3 separate regions of the Homo sapiens genome follow, and all the other regions are linked to region 3. The links come from fine-mapping of genetic effects on gene expression. A gene starts in region 3. Each other region holds a variant in brackets. All regions are shown on one strand. Distances are between the middles of the regions. Region 1 overlaps POMT2 (protein O-mannosyltransferase 2). Region 2 overlaps NOXRED1 (NADP dependent oxidoreductase domain containing 1). Region 3 holds the start of POMT2 (protein O-mannosyltransferase 2).

Evidence for each region. PIP is the estimated chance that this variant, and not a neighbour inherited with it, causes the effect. A credible set is the group of variants that fine-mapping cannot tell apart.
Region 1: its variant is the best candidate, but not a certain one, in a credible set for the expression of POMT2 in tibial nerve (GTEx, PIP 0.77).
Region 2: its variant is the best candidate, but not a certain one, in a credible set for the expression of POMT2 in lung (TOPMed, PIP 0.61).

The regions. Positions count from the first base shown.
Region 1 is chr14:77,275,612-77,282,865 of GRCh38, reverse strand. It overlaps POMT2 (protein O-mannosyltransferase 2), which reads left to right. Exons shown (of 21, transcript NM_013382.7): 16 at 2,403-2,474; 17 at 2,786-2,845; 18 at 2,938-3,043; 19 at 3,997-4,137; 20 at 4,358-4,472; 21 at 5,385-7,254. The coding sequence ends at 5,490. Among named protein-coding and RNA genes, the nearest start is that of NGB, 8.0 kb to the right of the region's middle. The variant C/T (reference allele first, on the strand shown) is at 3,833.
Region 2 is chr14:77,394,440-77,401,693 of GRCh38, reverse strand. It overlaps NOXRED1 (NADP dependent oxidoreductase domain containing 1), which reads left to right. Exons shown (of 6, transcript NM_001113475.3): 6 at 6,889-7,254. The coding sequence ends at 7,063. Among named protein-coding and RNA genes, the nearest start is that of SAMD15, 21 kb to the right of the region's middle. The variant T/C (reference allele first, on the strand shown) is at 4,106.
Region 3 is chr14:77,316,778-77,323,605 of GRCh38, reverse strand. It overlaps POMT2 (protein O-mannosyltransferase 2), which reads left to right and starts at 2,723. Exons shown (of 21, transcript NM_013382.7): 1 at 2,723-3,172. The coding sequence starts at 2,925. It overlaps GSTZ1 (glutathione S-transferase zeta 1), which reads right to left and starts at 2,570. Exons shown (of 9, transcript NM_145870.3): 1 at 2,423-2,570. The coding sequence starts at 2,437. RefSeq lists enhancers at 1,907-1,956, 1,488-2,349, 2,227-2,496 and silencers at 2,577-2,956, 3,187-3,236.

The DNA.
Region 1 (7,254 bases), 41 kb after region 3:
TGCAGGGAGGTGTAGCACTTGTTATTTTTCCCCTGGTAAGCCATTGTCAAGTGGACTTCCCTGGAAGTGATTATGTAAGCAGTACTCAGTACATATAGTTGACTTATTTCACCAGATTAAATTTTAAAAATTCAAATTTTGTCATTTTTGCGCATTGGGAGGTGATAAGTTGACATTAAGCATCTCTGGGTCACTTCCTTTCTGACTCTCTGCTTGTAGCTGTCACTGTGGCCTGATGACATAGCTCTTTTGAACATGTGCCTGTCAGTCAGAATATCATTCTGGGCCTGGGTCAAATTTTAAGACTAAATCTACGAGTTTCATTTTGTCTTTCATTATCTAAGAAGTAGAGTCAGAGAAGAAAAGGGAAGTAATGAGAGCTTTCTTATTCAGCCAACAAAGAGTCAGGGAGGGGAGAGAGATGAAAACAGTGAGTCCAGACTATAGAAACTGCAGGGGCAGGGCTCTTCCGCTGGCTGAGTAGTGGCCCGGGACCTGGAGGAGAAGGCTGCCTTGCCTGGTGCAGTTACAGGAATGAGCCCATCCAGATTTCAGCCATAGAGAACAACTTACAAGTACATATGCCTGTGATGGTTGCAGATTTTTCTTTCCTCTTTTAGTTTAGCAACAGAGCAGGATTTCTCAGAGTTTAATGTAGTGAATAAGATTCCCTTGGCTTGGTACAGTTCTGGCTGGAGTCCTTGGGTTTGGGACCAAACTGTACAATTTGAAGGAATTGGTTTCCCTCAGCAACTGCCGCAGGGGTCCAGAATGATTCATTCCTCATTCCCAGGTCCTTCAAAGGGCCGCAGTGACGCTGGGGCCGTGCAGCTGTCCCCTTTGTGTCTGATGCCCTGGATGCACTTTTGACCTTGGAGGCACAACCTCTCCACCATGTAGAGGCCTGTAAACTATTCCCAGCCCCTTGCTGAACTGGATTCATAAGGCACTGGGTGGCAGTCCACTGAACTTTCTGGGTCTTTCTTAGGCTATACCAGTGGTTCTTAATTGAGGGTGATTTTGCCTCTCGGGACTTTTGGCCATCTGTGGAGAAATTTTTGGCTGGGAAACTGAGGGGTTGAGGGTAGGAGTGCTACGGGCATTCAGTGAGTGGAGGCCAGGAATGCTAAACACTCTGCAATGCACGGGACAGTCCTCACAGCAAAGACTCATCCAGCCCGAAATGTTGGGAGTGCTGAGGTGGAGAAGCTCCGGCCTAAGTCATGGCAGCTGACTCCCCTTCTGGGGAAATGCCTTTTCAGTCTGTCCCAGTGATAAGGCAGAACCCAGTCCTAGTGGTTAATATCCTGGATCCTGACCCTACTCCTTCCTGTTTTAGCAAAGACCTGGTTTGCCCTGTAGAGAAAGGTTAGCAGATGTTCTTGGCTGCTGGATTAGGGAGGCTGAGTCTGGGTCCTTCAAACCAAAGCATGCATTAGGGTTGATTTCTCTCCCAATAGATGAAATGTGTTCTTGGAGGGCAAAATATCTAATTTTTTATGTATAAAGCACAAGTAAGATGTACAGTATAAAGTATTAAAATGTCATGGAGTGTGTTTAGGGAGAAACTTGTCTACAAAGGCTCCTGGTAGAGGGGCAGTAGTGGAAAAAAAAGGTGGAGAAGCACTAAGCTAAAGCAACCTCTTCCAAGTCTAGGCACGCATGAGAGTTTCTGCTTTTCTGTTTGAAATTGGCCCCTGAAGGGAACAAATAAGTAAGCCTTATTATTTATTTATTTATTTATTTATTTATTTATTTATTTATTTATTTTGAGACTGAGTCTTGGTCTTTTTGCCTAGGTTGGAGTGCAATGGCATGATCTCAGCTCACTGCAACCTCCGCCTCTTGGGTTCAAGTGGTTCTCCTGCCTCAGCCTCCCAAGTGGCTGGGATTACAGGCACCCACCGCTACGCTCAGCTAATTTTTTGTATTTTTTAGTAAAGACGGGGTTTTACCATGTTGGCCAGGCTGGTCTTGAACTCCTGACCTCAGGTGATCCACCCGCCTCGGCCTCCCAAAGTGCTGGGGTTACAGGCATGAGCCACTGCACCCGGCTGTAAGCCTCATTTTATATCCCCTCTCTCCCACCATTTTCACACCTTGTCCTTAGCTTGGCAGATGGGTATATATTTTGTGCCCATTGGAACAATTTCCTCTTTCCCTTCTTTTTCCCTAGAAGGTTGGAATGGACCCCTTATGGGAGATGGAGGCTTGTCTGGGAGAAGTAAAGCAAGTGTCGTAGGTAGGCAGACAGCAGCTGCCTGATTCTTCCCTGCAAGGGAAGGGAAGGAGAGAAGGTTCTGCTCGGCGCTTGGCCCTATATCAGAAAAACCTGGGCCCCACATTTCTGTCAGCCCTCTAGATCTCTGTCTTGACTAGCTTTCTTTGCTACCTTCATGCAGGGGAACAGTGGCCTCAAACCCAAGGACAATGAGTTCACGTCCAAACCCTGGCACTGGCCTATCAACTATCAGGTAGGATCCAAGGCTGGGGCTCCTCCCAGGAAATGGAGCCAAGAACAAGAGCAGGGAGACCGGTGGAGGCGGGGGTGGGTGTACTAGGGCGGCAGGGCGAGGGGCCTCCTGGGATGGGTTGGCCAGAGGTGGGAGTATCTGTTTTCTGCCCTAATTCTGACCCTGCTTCCCAGAGAGCTCGTGTAGAATTTGCCAGCCTGAGGTTCGTGTCCAGGCTCCCTGTCTGTGGAAGGTGACCATCTTCCTCCCCCTAATGGGTGTGGCCGAGGATGGGCTGGGCCTGGGTCAGCAGGGTGGTCTCTATTCCACAGGGCCTACGCTTCTCAGGGGTCAATGACACAGATTTCCGAGTCTATCTGCTTGGCAACCCGGTGAGTGCCTAAACATTCCCGGCTCAGGCCCTGGAGCACTTGCCCGTGGAGAGCGGCTGCGTTCTCATCTGCCCATTCCCATTTCTGCACAGGTGGTTTGGTGGCTGAATCTGTTGAGCATCGCCCTCTACCTCCTCTCAGGGAGCATCATTGCTGTAGCCATGCAGAGAGGGGCACGGCTGCCAGCGGAGGTTGCAGGTCAGGTCCTCTGGGCTCTCCCTCCCCTGACCTGGCGGCAGCAGGGCACCTGCACCCCTGGGGAGGGCCGGCTGCCTGCTGATGGGCCATCCTTTGCGTTTACCACCCCACACCTTCCCTTATCCTTTGCTTTTGAAAGGTAACAACCCCCAAGTACCCAGTGCTGTGTTAAACACTTTACTTCCTCCCAACAACACTAGAGCGTTGGCTATTATGACCCCCATTTTATGGATTAGGAAACCAAGGAACCATGAGATTAAGAAACTTGCCCCAGGACATACAGCTAGTAAGTGATAGAGCTGAGGCTCAAACCCGTGCAATCTGACTCCACAGCCCTCACTTTTAGCCCCATGCTGTGTACAGAGCTGCCCATCTTTTCTGCCACCTCCTTGTTCCATGGCCCTGTCCTCTCATGGGCTAGAGAGGAGCCTCCAGGGTTATTGAGTTCCCATCCCAGTGCTGTTCTTGGTAACTTTGGCTGCCAGACCATGGGCCACAGCACCTGAGACAGTCACACAGGCCCTTTTGCCTCTGCAGCTCTCTGTCTGAACAGTCATAGTCCCAGACACCTCCTCACTCCATCCTCACCTGTAACCTCACCTTAGCGCCTGTCTGCCGCTGCAAAGATCTGTGTGGCAGCAAAGATGTGGGAGGTGGAAGTAGGGAGTGAAGCTGTCTGCAGGCGCAGAAGGGTTTCTTTAGAGGCTGGGCTGCCTCCTGCTGGTGCTTGGTGCACCTGCCATTGGTGCCCAGGCCTCACTAGGCTGGGCCCTGACCAGAGCTCTCGAG[C/T]CCCAGCTGCTCCTCTCCAGTTTCTGTAGCGTGGTTTGGGTTGGTCCAATGAGGTGATATGACATATTCAAGGTCACACAGCAAGGAAGGGGCAGAGCTGGACCAGAGCCTGGAATCTCTGCCCGCTCCTTGTCTTCTGACTGGGCTGTGCTGCTTGGGCCCAGGGTTGTCCCAGGTCCTGCTTCGAGGAGGCGGCCAGGTCCTGCTCGGCTGGACACTCCATTACTTCCCGTTTTTCCTGATGGGCCGGGTCCTCTACTTCCACCACTACTTCCCAGCCATGCTCTTCTCAAGCATGTTGACAGGTCAGTGCCACCCACCTGGACTTGGGAGACAGAGCAGGTGGAGGGCGGGCCACTGTTGGGCAGCAGTGCTGGGAGTGACTCTGCTCCTTGACGGGAGGCCACTGTGGGGCAGCAGTGCTGGGAGTGACTCTCTGCTCCTTGACTTGGAGTGCCTCCTTCTTCTGTAGCCCAGAAGTCACCCCCTGCCTGGCTGACTCCAGGTTTCTCTCCTCTCCTCTAGGCATTCTGTGGGACACCCTCCTGCGGCTCTGTGCCTGGGGCTTGGCCTCATGGCCCCTGGCGAGGGGCATACATGTGGCGGGAATCCTGAGCCTGCTCCTGGGAACTGCCTACAGGTGAGCATCTCTGCACCTCACATGCCCTCCCAGTGTGGGCTCAGCAGTGCCTCAGCCCTGATGCATTCGAGAATCCCCTGCGGTGCTTTTAACACCACCAGTGCCCATGCCTGGAGGTTCTGCGTCACCCAAGCCCAGGTGGGGCCGTGGTTTCCAGAGTCCCCCAGGTGATCCTAATGTGCAGCCAGGTAGGAGAAGCAGGGCTTAACTCTGCCTTTTCCCCTTCTGCCGGTGGTTCAGCTTTTGTGCCATCCCAGCGCACCTGGAAGGGTACCCCTCTAGTGACAGTGACTCTGTGCCAGAACAGCTCTCAGAGGGGGAGTGTGGGAATGGGGGGCAGGGAACCCCTCTTTAGTCACCATGGCCCCCTGTCAGAACAGCTCTCCGGGTGAGGGAGGGGGGAACCGGGGGGCAATGGGGGACAGGGCACCCCTCTTTAGTCACTGTGGCCCCCTGCCGGAAGAGCTCTCGACGGGTGGGGTGGGAAGGGTGGGAATGGGAAGTGTGTGGCTGAGTGGCTGAAAGGGAGAGTTGTTTGGAAGGCTCCCCGCTTCCCCAGTCCCTGGCCTTGGTGCTGGGCCTGTGGCCTGTGAGCACATGCCTGCCTAAGAGGGTTACATTCACATGTTGACAAACACCCCTGGCCAAATAGCCCATGACAAGACCCCTAGAAGGGTTGCCCTCCTGGGCCTCTTGGGAAGAGCCCTTTCCATGATTGTCATTGAGTCAGCATCTACTAAGCTCTCCAGCTACAGTGTGCCCCAGTGGGACTCAGACAGACAAGGCCGTGAAAGAGAACCGGGCTTGGCGATGGGGAATTTCTCTGGAGCTCCAGCAGGAGGAATGGAATTCAAAGCCCCTCAGCTGAGGCACTGGGGGTGCCAACTGCCTCCTACTGGTTCTCTCTCACAGCTTCTACCTCTTCCACCCTCTGGCTTACGGGATGGTTGGTCCCCTGGCCCAGGACCCCCAAAGTCCAATGGCAGGACTAAGGTGGCTGGACTCATGGGACTTTTGAGGCCACTGCAAAGATTCCAGCCTGGGTCCAGGAACTTCCCAGGAGAGCCAGCTGGGAAGCAGTACTGGACCATCCGGCCATGAGGAAGCTGCCTAAGGAGCCCGAAGAATTCTGCTGCTCACCAGGACCCAGCTCTGGGAGTGCAGCTGGAATGGAACCCAGCATTGGAGAGAGCCGGGAGAGAGCCGCAGCTCCGTCCACAGCACCACGGAGAGGACAGCGCCTCTTGGGCTGCTCCCTCGTGCACAGCGCAGGGGAGGATGGGTGCCAGAGGGTGGGAGTGGGTGCGCGTGTGTGTATGTGAGGGCATGTTGTCCATATCCCTGTGGAATACAGACCGTGTAACTGGACAGCTGAGTGTCATAAACTCTAAAATAGTCCAGGCTATAGTAATATTTTCTGGTATTTTTTTCTGTTGGATTTCTTTGGTTTTGGTTTGTAAGATCCATCAAAAATTCTCAGACCTCTGAGAGGGCCTTGAGGGCAGAGAATACTGACCTCACCTTGGGATGTCACCAAAGGCAGAGCAGATGGGACTGTCAAAGTTGTGCTGCCCTCCCTCCCACAAACAAATGAATCCAGCGTGGAGGAAGGCGCGCCGCCCCGAGCTGGAGGGCCTGGCTCCCACCATGCCCCCCAGTGGCTGCAGGTAGCTGGACTTCCTGCCTGTGACGCACAGAGAGCAGCGGACTCCGGAGCGTCAGCCTGCCTTAGCCCTTGGTTCCTCGTTTTTTGGGATTGTCACACTGTGACACTCGGGAGGAACGATGTCCTATCCTGGGCTGCTCAGTGTTCCCAGGCCCTGTGTGCCAGAGGCCAGGTCTCTCCAAGTGCATCTAGCCTGGCCTGGAGGGCAAGGCAGATGCATTCTCCTGGCTGCTGGGAGAGCCCATGGGAACCTTGCTTAGCGCCCAAGGTAGATGAGAGACAGGGCAGGGAATCTGCGTGGTGCTGGGATGTGGGGACTCTGGCCTCTCCAGACTAATGTTCCTGTCACCTGCTGAGCTTTCCCAGTGTCACTTCTGCAGTCCTCCTCTGCTCACCCCTCCCTCACTCCGTGGGCAATTCCCTTTCTCTCTGTCACTGCTTCAGCAGTGAAGACCCATGGCACCTAGAAATGCATGCCAGCTTCCTGCGTCTACCACTCTGCAGCTCAAACAAGAAGCTCAGAGCTGCCCCTTCCACTTCCTCCCCAAAAGGGATGAAGAAAACCCTGTGGTAGAACCAAACCACCCAAGGCCAGCCCTTAAGCCTGCCTCCACCTTCCTGGTGCATGACAAAATATTTCTTTTGTCTCAGAGGACTTTGATGCTTCAATATTTAATGATGAATCCGCCACACTCCATTTTCCCTCCTCTGAAGCTCCCAACAACTCTGACAGGGTCAGATCTCTTTAAAGCATCTTCAGGAGGCGGTTGCCACGGAGACTGGATATTGGTCCCAGGGACAGGCTGTGCTACCTACTGGGTGGTGGGGAGGGAAGCTTCTGGCCATGCTTGGGCATTCAGACCAACCATCATTAATGTTAATAGAGGAAATGCAGCAACGTCAAAAGCAAGGCAGGTTGGTTAATTAGATCTGGGGCCCGATGACCTCCCTTTCCCACTGCTACAGCCCTTTTGACTTCCCCCAGCAGGAAGCGCTGTCTGTGCGGCTGAGTCTGGGCCACTTGCTTAATTGCATTTCTGGCAGGGAAGGAGAGGAGGGATGGAGAAGCTCTGCTCGCTGCTTCCACCTCACCGTGTGTCCTCCCCTCCCCTCCCT
Region 2 (7,254 bases), 78 kb before region 3:
TGCTCTGCTGCCCCAGCTGGGGTGCAGTGGCACGATCATGGCTCACTGCATCCTCAACCTTCTGGGCTCAAGCAATCCTCCCACTTCAGCTTCCTGAGTAGCTAGAACTACAGAACTACAGGTGCACACCATTGTGCCCAGCTGATTTTTTATATTTTTTTGTAGAGATGGGATCTTGCTATGTTGCCCAGGCTGGTCTCAAGCTCCTGGCCTCAAGTGATCCTCCTGCCTCAGCCTCCCAAAGTGCTGGAATTACAGGCATGAGCCGTCACACCCAGCCTGTTCTGAGTCTTTTGCTCTTCCATTTAAACTTTTTTTTTTTGAGGTGGAGTCTTGTTCTGTTGCCCATGCTGGAGTGCAGTGGCGCCATCTTGGCTCACTGCAACCTCTGCTTCCTGGGTTCAAGCAATTCTCTTGCCTCAGCCTCCCCAGTAGCTGGGATTACAGGCACCCGCCACCATGCCCAGCTAATTTTTGTATTTTAGTAGAGATGGGGTTTCACCATGTTGGCCAGGCTGGTCTCAAACTCCTGACCTCGTGATCCACCCACCTCGGCCTCCCAAAGTGCTGGGATTACAGGCATGAGCTGCTGCACCTGGCCCCATTTAAACTATAGAGTCAATTTTTCAATATCCACAAAATAATTTCCTGGGATTTTGATTGGCATTGCGTTGAATGTGTAGTTCAGTTGGGAAGAACTGGCATCTTTATAGTATTGAGTCTTCTTCTCCATGAACATGAAATCTCTATATTTATTTTGTTGTTTTTAGACTTCTCTCATCAGTTTCATAGTTTTCCTTATGTAGATCTTGCACATATTTCATTTGATTTATACCTAAGTATTTCATTTTGGGGGTTCTAATATAAATGGTAATGTGTTTTTAATTTTAAATTCCACTTGTTCATTGCTGGTATATAGAAAAGACACTGACTTTTGCATATTAATCTTGTATCCTACAACTTTGCAACATACATTTAAACATTTGCCCTATTGCTTCACTAAGCCATTCTAAGTCATAAGAGACTATTCCTGTAAATTGTGTATTCAGTGAAAGGCTCATCAAAAACTCAGAAGAATAAAACCGTTTGTCTCTTATCTACCTATGACCTGGAAACCCCCGCCCCACTTGAAGTTGTCCCACCTTTCCAGACCAAACCAATGTACATCTTACATATAGTGATTGATGTCTCCTGTATTCCTAAAATGTATAAAACCATGCTGTGCCCCGACTACCTTGGGCACATGTCATCAGAACCTCCTGAGGCTGTGTCACGGGCACATAGCCACAACCTCGGCAAAATAAACTTTCTAAATTGACTGATGCTTGTCTCAGATACTTTCTGGTTTACAGTGTTATCTGTTAGATCAGTTAGGAGTAAGAAAAACTAAAGTTATCTTCACTTGTTCCTTCTTCAGTGCTCTTCTTTTCTTTATGTAGATCCGTGTTTCTGACCTATATCATTTTCCTCCTAAGGAACTTCTTTGAACATTTCTTGCAAGACAGGTCTACTGGCAACAAATTCCCTCAATTTTTGTTTGGTAAAGTCTTTATTTCTCCTTCACTTTAGAAGGATAACTTTGCACAGAGTTCTAGGTTAGTGATTTTTTTTCTTCCTGCACTTTAAATATTTCACTGCACTCTCTCCTTGCTTGCATGATCCTAAAAATCAGCTTTCTTATCTTTGTTTTTCTATGGGTATGGTGTTTTTTTTCCCTCTGGCTTATCTCAAGATTTTTTGTTTTTCTGTAGTCTCAAAATGATATGTTTAGGTATAGTTTCTTGTGTGTTTTTGTTATTTATCCTGCTTGGTGTCTTCTTGAGCTTCCTAGATCTGTGGTTTGGTGTCTGACATTAATTTGGGGGAAATTCTCAGTCATTATTGTTTCAAATATTTCTTGTGTCCTTTCTCTCCTCCTTCTAGTCTCATTATGCGCATGTTACATCTTTTGTAGTTGTCCCACAGTCCTTGGATATTTTGTTCTGTATTTTTCGTCTTTGTTTTCTTTGCTTTTCAGTTTTGGAGGTTTCTGTTGAGATATCCTCAGATTCAGAGATTATTTCCTCGGCCATGAACAGTCTACTAATAGGGGCCTCAAAGATATTCTTCATATCTGTCACAGTGTTTTTAATGAGTAGTATTTATTTTTGGTTCCTGGAACTTCCATCTTTCTGCTTCCGTAGTCTGCCGTCTACTTTATCCATTAGATCCTTTAGCATATTAGTCATAGTTATTTTATTTTTTGAGACAGGGTCTTGCTTTGTTACCCAGGCCGGAGTGCAGTGGCATGATCACTGCTCACTGCAGCTACAATCTCCCGAGCTCAAGTGATCCTCCCACCTCTCCCGAGTAGCTGGACCACAGGCACATGCCACCATGCTTGGCTAGTTTTTTTTATTATTTGTAGAGACTGGGGTCTCACTTTGTTGCCCAAGCTTGAATTCCTGGGCTCAAACAATCCTCCCACCTCGGCCTCCCAGATTGCTGGGATTACAGGAGTCACCTCACCTGGCCTCAGTCATAGTTATTTTAAATTCCCAGTCTGATTATTCCAGTATTCCTCTCATATGTGGTTCTGATGCTTGTTCTACCTTTTCAAATTGTGGGTTTTGGTGGTTTTTTGTTTTTTGGCTTTTAGTATGCCTGTTAACTTTTTCTGGATAGTCAGACATGATGTACCAGGTAAAAAGAACTGCTGTAAATAGGCTTTTTTTTGTTTGTTTTTGAGACGGAGTCTTGCCCTGTTGCCCAGGCTGGAGTGCAATAGCGCGATCTTGGCTCACTGGAACCTCCGCCTCCTGAGTTCAAACGATTCTCCTGCCTCAGCCTCCTGAGTAGCTGGGATTACAGGTGCCCGCCACCACACCCAGCTAATTTTTGTATTTTTAGTAGAGATGGGGTTTCACCATGTTGGCCAGGCTGGTTTCGAACTCCTGACACCATGATCTGCCCGCCTCAGCCTCCCAAAATGCTGGGATTACAGGCATGAGCCATCGCACCCGGCCTGTAAATAGGTCTTTAATAATGTAGTAAGGAGTTGAGGAGGGGAAGTGTTCTATAGTCCTACGGGTAGGTCTCAGTCTTTGAGTGAGCCTGTACTCTGGACTGTGAACTTCACAAGTGTTTCTCAGGATTTTTCTCCTTCTTCAGTGGAACAGGATGGCTAAAGTGGGCTGGAGTTGAGGAGCCCATTCCTCCTTCCACGTGGAAGGGTAGACCTGACTGGAACTGGCTATTTCTCTTCCCCCAGGTCAGTTAGGCTCAGATAAAACCCCAGAAGGTTTGGCTCTGGTTAAATAGTTTCTCCCAAGGGCAGACCTTGCTAAGAACAGAATGCTCTGCCATATTTCAAAATGGTTTATTTTCCTCTCCCTTTGATGGAAGCACAAGGGGATTTTTCTCAGATATCACTGAGAACCTGGTTGAGCTCCTAGAGGTAAAAATCATAAGTGTGAGGGTCCCCAGTGATTGGGTCCCCCAAGTCTGACATTTTTATTCTCAGACTTGTCCACTCTGAACCTCCAGCAATTTGTCAGTTACAGTTCCGGGTTCCCTATCTTGGCACTGGGTTCCCATAGAGGTTTCAGCTCATGGGTTTCTCCTCCAGCAAGCTACTTCTGAGCATTTGTGTTCTGGTCCCTGCAGTCTTAGGGAGAGTAGTTTGCCCTTGACCCTACCTCTCTTACACATCTAAAAGAGTTATTGATTTTTTAGTTCAGCTTTTTAATTATTGTTAGGATAGAGTGGCAACTTCTAGCTTCTTACATGTCAGACCAGAAACTGGAATTCAAGTATTTTTTTTTTTTTTTTTTGAGATGGAGTTTTAGCTCTGTCACCCAGGCTGGAGTGAGTGGTGCAATCTCGGCTAACTGCAACCTCCGCTTCCCAGGTTCAAACAATTCTCCTGCCTCTGCCTCCTGAGTAGCTAGGATTACAGCCAGTAAGCCTGGCTGACTTTTTTGTATTTTTAGTAGAGACAGGGTTTCACCATGTTGGCCAGCCTGGTCTTGAACTCCTGACCTCAAATGATCCGCCTGCCTTGGCCTCCCAAAGTGCTGGGATTACAGGTGTGAGCCACCGCACCCAGCCAAGATAATTTTTTTCT[T/C]TATTTTGAGATAAATACGGAGTCACATGAAATTGTTAAGAAATAATAGTGAAATCTCATGTACCCATTTACCCATTTTCCATCAATGGAAATAGATATTGCAAAACTGTAGCACAATATCACAGCCAGGATACTGACATTGATACAGTTAAGATATAGAACAGTTCTTTCACTAACGAATTCTTCATGTTGCCTCCTCACAGCTGCAAACTTGGTAACTTCTAATGTGTTCTTCATTCCTATAATTTTGTCATTTCAAGAATGTTATATAAGTGGAATCATATGTATGCCACCTTTTGAAACTGGCTTTTTTCATTCAGCAAGTCTCTGGAGATTCATCCAAGTTGTTATGTGTATTAATAGTTGGCTTTTATTGCTGAATAATATTCCACGGCATGGCTGTATCACAATTTGTTTAACCATTCACCTGTTGAAGGACATCTGGGTTGATTCCAGTTTTTGGCTATTATGAATAAGGGTGTTATGAACATTCATGTACAGGCTTTTGTGTGAACATAAGTGTCCACTTACCTGGAATGAATGACCAGGAGTGTAATTATTGTCATTTGGTAGTTGCATATTTATTTTTTTAAGACACTGCCAAATTGTTTTTCACAGTAGTACCAGTTTATATTATCACTAGCAATGTATAATCCAGTTTCTCTGCATCCTCACCAGCAACTGGTGTTGGCAATAATTTTTATTTTGTGATTACATCTATAGATCAATTTTTGGAAAACTGACATCTTAATTTTGTTGAGTTTTCCCACTCATTAATATAGTATGTTTCTCTAGATATTCTTTGCTTTCATCAGCATTTTATAGTTTTTATTATGCAAGTCTTGTACATGTTTTATTGGATTTACATCTAAGTATATCATTTTTTGGAGTGACAATAAATGAAAAAACATTTTCAATTTTGGTGTCCACATGTTTATCACTATTGTATATAAATACAATTGATATTTGTATGTTTATTTTGTATCCTGCAACCTTGCTGAATTCATTAGTTCTAGGAGGTTTTAAAAATAGATTCCTTGGGCTGGGTGCGGTGGCTCATGCCTGTAATCCCAGCACTTTGGGAGGCCGAGGCAGGTGAATCACCTGAGGTCAGGAGTTCCAGACTAGCCTGATGAACATGGAGAAACCCCATCTCTATTAAAAATACAAAATTAGCCAGGCATGGTGGTGCATGCCTGTAATCCCAGCTACTTGGGAGGCTGAGGCAGGAGAATCACTTGAACCCAGGAGGCGGAGGTTGTGGTGAGCTGAGATCACACCATCGCACTGCAGCCTGGGCAACAAGAGCGAAACTCCATTTCAAAAAAAAAAAAAAAAAAGATTCCTTGGAGTTTTCTACATAGATAATAATGTCATGTATAAATAGAGACGGTTTCATTTCTTCCTTTCCAATGTCCATGCCTTCTAATTTCCTTTTCTTGCCTTATTGCATTGCCTAGAACTTCTAGTACTATTCTGTATAAGACTGGTGAGAGCAGGTATCTTTGCCTTAGCCTTACTCTTGATTTTTTTTTTAACAGACAGGGTCTCACTATGTTGCCCAGGCTGGCCTTGAACTCCTGGGCTCAAGCAATCCTCTTCTCTCAGCCTCCTGAGTAGCTGGGACTACAGGTGCGCACCATCATGCCTGTCTCTCCTGATCTTTTGAAAAATATTGAAACCCTATGTCTTAAGGCTTTTTAACTTGAATTACACTATAGACTAATACTTAATGTTGCCCCGTTAGGTATTCATTTGCATATTAACTTTCCTCTCTGTTTTTTTAGAGATGGGGGTCTCACTCTGTAGCCCAGGCTAGAGTGCAGTGGTGTGATCATAGCTCACTGCAGCCTCGACCTGCTGGGCTCAAGCAATTTCCCACCTCAGCCTCCTGAGTAGCTGGGACTACAGGTGTGTCCCTCCACATCCAGCTAATTTTTTTTTTAATTTGTACAGATGAGGTCTCATTATGTTGTCCAGGCTGGTCTCAAACTCCTGACTTCAAGTGATCCTGCTGCCTTGGCCTCCCAAAGTGCTAGGATTACAGGCATGAGTCACTGTGCCCAGCCTACTTTTTAATCTATACAGCTAAAGAGGATATCTTAAAAGCAATTAGACTTCTTCCTTGCTTAATGTCCACGATCTTATATATGTTCTTTCTAAATTCGAGAAAAATATTCTGCAGCCGGGCGCAGTGGCTCACGCCTGTAATCCCAGCACTTTGGGAGGCCGAGACGGGCAGATCACAAGGTCAGGAGATTGAGACCATCCTGGCTAACACGGTGAAACCCCGTATCTACTAAAAATACAAAAAAATTGGCTGGGCGTAGTGGCGGGCGCCTGTAGTCCCAGCTACTCGGGAGGCTGAGGCAGGAGAATGGCATGAACCTGGGAGGTAGAGCTTGCAGTGAGCCGAGATCGCGCCACTGCACTCCAGCCTGGGCGACAGAGCAAGACTCCATCTCAAAAAAAAAAAAAAGAAAGAAAAAAAAGAAAAATTTTCTGCAAAGGGTGTCAATGTTAATATTATAATAATTCTTTAACAATGAATTCCTCTCCAAATGCACTTAGAGAAATGTACATAAGTGTGAGAAATCACCATTAAGTACACTTAAATCTACACATTGACTAGTTCTAGCTGAATTTCTAGTTTATGAAAAGGTATTAATGTTTCTAGTTTATGAAAAGGTAATGAGGAAAACTTTCTTTAAAAGATGTGTTTAACAGCCAAATCAGATATACTGAACAGACATAAAAAAGTAACAATATTTTTTTCACCTCAGGCCTTTCCCCTGGTTTGATCTGACTGCTGTGCAACTCAAGGAAACTCCGTTTAGCCAGCATCTCTCAAGTAGTCCTGTTCTCCAAGACCACCTTACCCATCTATACTGTGCTTCATTTGGCATCTCCCTAACCAAAGAACAGCCAGTCATTTCCACAGGCTTTCCATCCCAATAAGAGAACTCAGGAATCAGGATTTTTTCCCACTCACAGATTTTCCCTATAATAGTTGTGCCCTGATTATCACAATTGACTGTGGGAGTCTTGTGGCTGTATTGTGTTTGCCACATGATAGACATCAGGAATTATAAAACTGTACTGATGACTCTTTAAAATGTAGAATAAAACAAGTGGTCCTATCCATCAAT
Region 3 (6,828 bases):
CACTTTGGGAGGCTGAGGCCAGCAGATCACCTGAGGTCAGGAGTTCGAGACCAGCCTGGCCAACATGGCGAAACAACATGGCTAAACAAAAATTAGCCAGGTGTGGTGGTGTGCATCTGTAATCACACCTACTTGGGAGGCTGAGGTATGAGAATTGCTTGAACCCAGGAGGCGGAGGATACAGTGAGCCAAGATCGTGTCACTGCCCTCCAGCCTGGGGGACAGAGCAAGACTCCATCTCAAAATAAATAAATAATAAAATAAAATAAAAATAAAAATCATGATATTTTATATACAACACCTGTTTGTTTTTTTTCTTTAAAAAAATCTGGAGACAGATTTGGGTTCCTAAATAGCAGCAATTGATGGGAACAGACTAATGGCCCCCATCAACCAGCGTATGCGCTCTCAGGTCTGCCATGGCCCATATCTGGCCCACTTTTCTCATTTTTGTTACCTTTGGGCCCTTGGGGGCAGCTGGGTGTGCGATCTCTACTCCAAGGTTTAAGGGGCTCAAAGTTAATTTCTCTGGTACTTCTTCGGGAGCCAGCATTTCAAAGTGGAACCCAGGAAAGACTCGCCAGTGATTAGCACTCATGAATCTTCCCACCAAAACATGTGTATCCCTATGGATAGGGGAGAACTTGAAAGAACTTCTCAGATGCCCTGTTTACTACCCCTCTGACTATAGACATTTCACCAAAGCTCCCTCTCCCCTCTGCCACCCCTAGCATATTAAGCTGCTCTCTGAACTTGCTATTGCCATCCCTGTACTACCAACTCAGTCTGCTAGATGGCAAGGGTGTAAGTGGGAACCTAGGCCCTTCCAAGATGGTTCCCAAGCCCAGCAGTCCCAGCCTGTCCTGAAGGTACCTTTTGTGGAGAAAGTAAAGATGGTCCTGGCACAGAAAGCAGGTGATGGGCAGAAAGTGTCTTTCGAAGAGGAGGAATTGGGTGGCCACAACTGGATCTTCCTTATTTGGAGATGCAACTCCCTTTCCTTACCTAGCCAGGCTACAGGGACTCCTGGTGCCAAGGGACAGGGACTGCTGGTGACCACTAGAGTGTGGCAGACATTAATTAGCTTAGAATCCCTGAAGAAATGCCTTACCTAATGGCTAAATGCCTTTGGATTACACCTTTGGATCTGTACTACGAGTGACCAGAAGCATGGTAAATGCTGCTGCCCTCCGTCACGACCCACAAGCAGGAAACCTGAAATCTCTTAGGCAATTTCTGCCTTCTCTTACCAGTGATAACTATGTAAACCATGCCCCGTTCCTTTCTGCACTTGTAGAACTAAACTTTAAGCCCAAGTATCCATCTCATCAGCACTCCTAGAAGACCTGTGTTTCCAATTCAAATATGCATTCTGATTACTTTAGCAGATTTTATTTTTAAACCATGTCTTACACATGATTTGAGAAAAAGACTCCTAAAATCCCATTTGGAAGAGGGAGGACTATACATTATTAACGTGACGCAAAGTCCCATCTAACGTGCCACCTTCCTTAGTGCCACAAAAGTGGTTCTCAAACTTCATGGCACGTTAAGAACCATCTAGACCGCTTATAAAAACATGCAGATTCTCGAGCCCGTTCCACCAGAGATGAACAGAGTGGCTCTGGAGCAGGCCCCGGGAAGAACATGTGAAAGCCGTGAAGCTCCCCAGGTGATTGTCATGACTGCCTCTCCTCGCTCGGGGCCTTTTTTTTTTTTTTTTGAGCCGGAGTCCCGCTCTTTCGCCCAGGCTGGAGTGCAGTGGCGCGATCTCGGCTCACTGCAAGCTCCGCCTCCTGGGTTCACGCTATTCTCCTGCCTCAGCCTCCCGAGTAGCTGGGACTACAGGCGCCCGCTACCACGCCTGGCTAATTTTTTTGTATTTTAATAGAGACAGGGTTTCATCGTGTTAGCCAGGATGGTCTCTATCTCCTGACCTTGTGATCCGCCCGCCTCGGCCTCCCAAAGTGCTGGGATTACAGGCGTGAGCCACCGCGCCCGGCCCGGGGACTCTTAAAATACAAACATTACTGGAAGGTCACCTCCTGCTAGGGCCAAGAGAAGAGCATGAAGGGCTGCGAGAAATTGGGAGGCTTGGGGCGACGTTTGGAAGCCTTAGTGGAGGGAGGGGTCTGTTATGGGGAGCAGGGAGGGCGGAGCAGAAGTGAAGCGCGACCGGACAGCGACTCCACCCTGCTACGCACTCCCTACCAGGACCGCCTCCTCTGGCCCAACCCTCCCGGAACTTCGAGCCCCAGCGGGCAGCGCGCAGCACGCAGGCGCAGAGCGTGCCCGGCGCAAAGCACTGCATGCCGGGAGTCGTTGTCGGCCTGGGCGGGCGGTGCAGCTCACTTCTGACCCCGCCCCCCAGGGTCTCCAGGTGTCTAACCAGCTTCCCTCCACCCGGGTGCGCGTCACAGACCTTCCCCGCCTGCATCTGGCACTTCGCGCGACCCCCTCCTCCAGGCCGAGAAACTTCGCGCCTGGGACCTGCCGACGACTAAGGCTCAGTGAGACTCGACGAATCAGGCCCGTGTCTTTCGTCCGGGTAAAGCGAGGGGCTGGACTAGAAAGATCCTTCCGGTCGCCTCTGGCTCGCCCAGCTCTCCCGCCACGCCCCGTACCTGGGGGCTGCTGGGAGTTGCAGTTCCCTGAGCCCGACCCCTCCTGCCCAGTCCCCCCCGCCCCGGGCCGGCCGGCCCTCCCGGTCCCGACATGCTCTGCGCCTCCTGCCGCCTCCTAGCGGCCCGGGCCGCGACCACGCTGCCCGCCCCGCCCCGAGCCCGGGGCCCCGCGCTCCGCTGCAGTGAAGGGCGTTGCATTTCCCGGGGTACCCCGAGCTGCCCTCTTGTGACTCCTTGGCGGGGCGGCTGGTCAGACAAAGTGTGCCTCCGGGCCGGAGGGCGACCCAGAGGAGGGGGAAGATGCCGCCGGCCACGGGCGGAGGCCTGGCAGAGTCCGAGCTGCGTCCCCGGAGGGGCCGCTGTGGCCCCCAGGCTGCTAGGGCCGCAGGCCGGGACGTGGCCGCTGAGGCTGTGGCGCGAAGCCCCAAACGGCCTGCTTGGGGCTCACGGCGCTTCGAGGCGGTCGGCTGGTGGGCCCTGCTGGCCTTGGTGACGCTGCTGTCCTTCGCCACCCGCTTCCACCGCTTGGACGAGCCGCCGCACATCTGGTGAGTGATGGGAGGGACTCGGCGGGCACCATGGCAACCGCGACGGGACGCCGCCCTCTGATTGGCCCGAGGGTACGGAGGGGGCGGGATCTATAGGAGGAGGGCCACGGTGGAGGGGAACTTGAGGTATCGGGTGGGTTGGCCTCTGGCGAGGTGCATTCTCTGGGAGGGGGATCGTTTTGCTCTGGTGGTGGGGCAGTGGGATTCTTAGTATCTGAGGAAGCAGCCCTCATGTCTTCCAGGTTATGCTACAGTGCATCACCTGGCTTGCAAATTGTGGCTTTTAAAGGTGCTTTCAACTTTCCAAAGAGAATTGCAAATTTTTGGGTACAGAATTTTCTAAGGCCTGAGTTCCTATGTCTGCAGGATTTTCAGGCATCAACAGAGGAGAAAATACCTAACTGTGTACCTTTATCCTATAGGGCAAGGACAGTTTGGGTGTTCAGGTATGGTGACCAAAGGATTTTATGAGGCAGAACTCTTCTTGTGAGAAGAGATTTATTTTCTTAAAGGTTTTAGCTTGTACTATCCAGATACTGGGTGTCAGAAATGGAATTCTTTAAGCAAAAAGCAGGCAAGAAAACAGACTGTCAGGGTTGCTTTATTTAGAAATTAATAAATTAGCTTGTTATTGTGTCGTGACTGCTGGCAGAAGATGAGACTCCTGGGTTAGAGACAAAGGACTTTATTACAGGAAATAGGATGCATGTTAGAAGCAGTTTCCCTTGCCATCCAAGTCCCACAGGGTGACGCTATGGGTTTAAATGGATGACTGCACAGGCAGTGGGTTGCATCCAAGTGAAGGAACGACAAGCTTGGAAAATCTGCTGTTTTATAGAAGGCAGTACGCAGACCTCCTCTTTGTCCTGGAGGGAGACACTGCCTCTTCTCTCAAAGTTGCTTGCTGCAAACACAACCATGAGAAATGGCCCAGGTGAGATGCAGTCAGGGCCTTGCATTCTTGGTATACCCAGAATGATGTGTAGAGGCACGAGCAATCTGACAGCCTCTCTCACTCCTCGATTCTATGGTCTTGGCTTCTAGCAGATTTTCACATGAATATACAACTCCCCTGGCTACTCACATCTTTTCAGTTTGTCCCTTACAGCATTTAATTAAGGTTGTTGTCAATGGGACTCTAAGCAGCAGAATAAGGCCAGCTTACAGTATTTACCTCAACCATGCCCTCCAGGGTCCTGGATTCAGCCACTTGTGAATAAGTCCTGGGGGCACCGAGGAATCTTATTTCAGACATCTGGGCTGCAGTCTAAGACCAGTCTATTAACCACTGTGACCTGTGCACAGGGGTTCAGATTGATCTCTGATCTTTGGTGTCATTACCAGTAATTACAATAGCCCACTACCCTTGTAAAAATTTTTTTAAGAAAGTAATTACCAGGCTGGGCGCAGTGGCTCACACCTGTAATCCCGGCAGTTTGGGAGGCCGAGGCGGGCAGATCACCTGAGGTCAGGAGTTCGAGACCAACCTGGCCAACATGGTGAAACTCCGTCTCAACTGAAAATACAAGACTTAGCCGGGCATGATGGCGGGTGCCTGTAATCCCAGCTACTCGGGAGGCTGAGGTGGGAGAATCACTTGAACCTGGGAAGCAGAGGTTGCAGTGAGCTAAGATCGCACCATTGCATTCCAGCCTAGGCGACAAAGCCAGACTCTGTCTCAAAAAAAAAAAAAAAAAATTAACTACCATGATTAATGGAAAGATATTTTGTGACCCATTCTTCCTTACACTAACATATTACTTGGAGGAGTGCAGGCCACTCCAGGATTTTTGTTAGATTTTTATTTGGATCACCATCAAATTTGATTACCATTACAGTGGTTTAAACCACATGGGCAGTGTCACTGAACAGTTGCAGCCTCAATCACTAGACAAGGCATAACCTAAGTAAGGCCCTTAGGATCTCAGGAGAAGCATGTGATTTGTATCAGCCGCATTGATAGAAGGTGGTGCTGATCTGTGTGTTTGCACACCTATGAGGGAGGTCTGCGTTTGGGAGTTGGTGTTGATGTCATCAGGCACGTGGGAATAGTTCAAGACTGGCCGTGTCCATGTGAGTTTTTGTTTTCTTTTTTTATTTTCTTTTTTATACTGACCTGCTAGATAAAGTTTTTATGTTTTCATAGTGAGATGACAAACTCAGCCACAGGTCAGATTGCCAGCCACAGTTGCTGCTTGACCTAGATGGACCATGTGAATGTTTGCCAGGCTTTGGTGCTGGATAGGGACAAAGAGAACATTGTTTCCCTTCTCTTTACATCTCCAGGGTCCTGTGGTGTTCCTTCCCCAGATGCCAGGATTGTTTCTTTCCTTCCATTGCTACATAATGAGTGTGTCCTACCCTAGTAACTATAACTTCACCTTTTCTCCATTTATCCCCTACCAATACGCAGGCCTTCTAATATCCAATTGTTAGAAAATTGACAGAGGCCCATTATGTCTTCTACCTTGACACATGTGGGCCACTGTAGGGGGACTTTAAAAGCACTATACCCAACCAAATGATCATTAACTTTATGTTCTGGCACCAGGCCATTCCAACAAGACAATCTAGTGACTGAACTAGAATTAAGTCTGAATTACATAGATAGCCTCCTCCTCCCAGCTGATCTGGGCTTTCTGTAAGGGGGAAGAAAGATGAATCATGGCCAGAAATGGTCAGGGGAGAATCTCACATTTTCAAAATAGGTTTATATAACCCTCCACCCCTTTTTCCTGATCATTACCCAGTTGGTAGGCAAAAGGAGATGACCCATTTCTGAGAATGGCTGCCTTAGGTGACCAAACTGCTTCAGTAAGGTTTGCAGACCAGGAGGAGGTTAAAAACATAGAATCAAAAATCTTTTTGAGTTGATCTTTGAGGGAACTGTTCAGTACTTGACAATGTCATGCCTGTGGATGGTAGGGAGTGTGGGAGGTCCATCGAATACCTTGGCTATTGACTGTTGACACTGTTGGGTGGCCATTGCGACAAAAAGATATGCCAGTGTCAGACTGTAGATGGTTTGGAAAGCAGAAAACCTGGCAGTTTAGTTTCAAGGGCCACAGTGGTATACACAGAGTCAGATAATTGGACTGGAAAAGCAACATCAGCACTGTAAACTGAAAAAGTATCAGCAGTAGCAAGGTACTGATGAGAGCCTAGAGAAGGGAACAAAGTCCTAATGTCAATCTCCCAGGAGCAGGTGTGGTCAGTGCCCCTTGCAATGTGGCTTCCTTTACTGCAAGACAAGCAGGCCAACTTTTGGCAGGAGTCACAAGTCTGGCACGCAGTGGTGGCTTCTGCCTCAGAAACATGTAGTCCCTTACGTTGTGCCTAGCCCATGATGGTAGATGTTTCCACACCGGTTGCATGAATCCAGGTGGCTATGGCAGCAGTCTTGGTGGTGCAGGCTGGATCAGCAGTTTGATTCCAGTCAGTCTTACGAGAGTACCTGCCCTTAGTGTGGGCACCTACGTGAGTGATCCAGTCTGTCCTATTGGCAGGCAGCCATGATGTGTTTCCACACTTCTCAGCTTTCATCTCTCAGTATTTAGTCTTCCAAGTGGCATACCAAATGCTTCAATCCTTACTGCCATCAGCCATCCAGAGTTATCATTGGGGCTAAGTGCCTGCTGCTGCTTGGTGGGCAACAT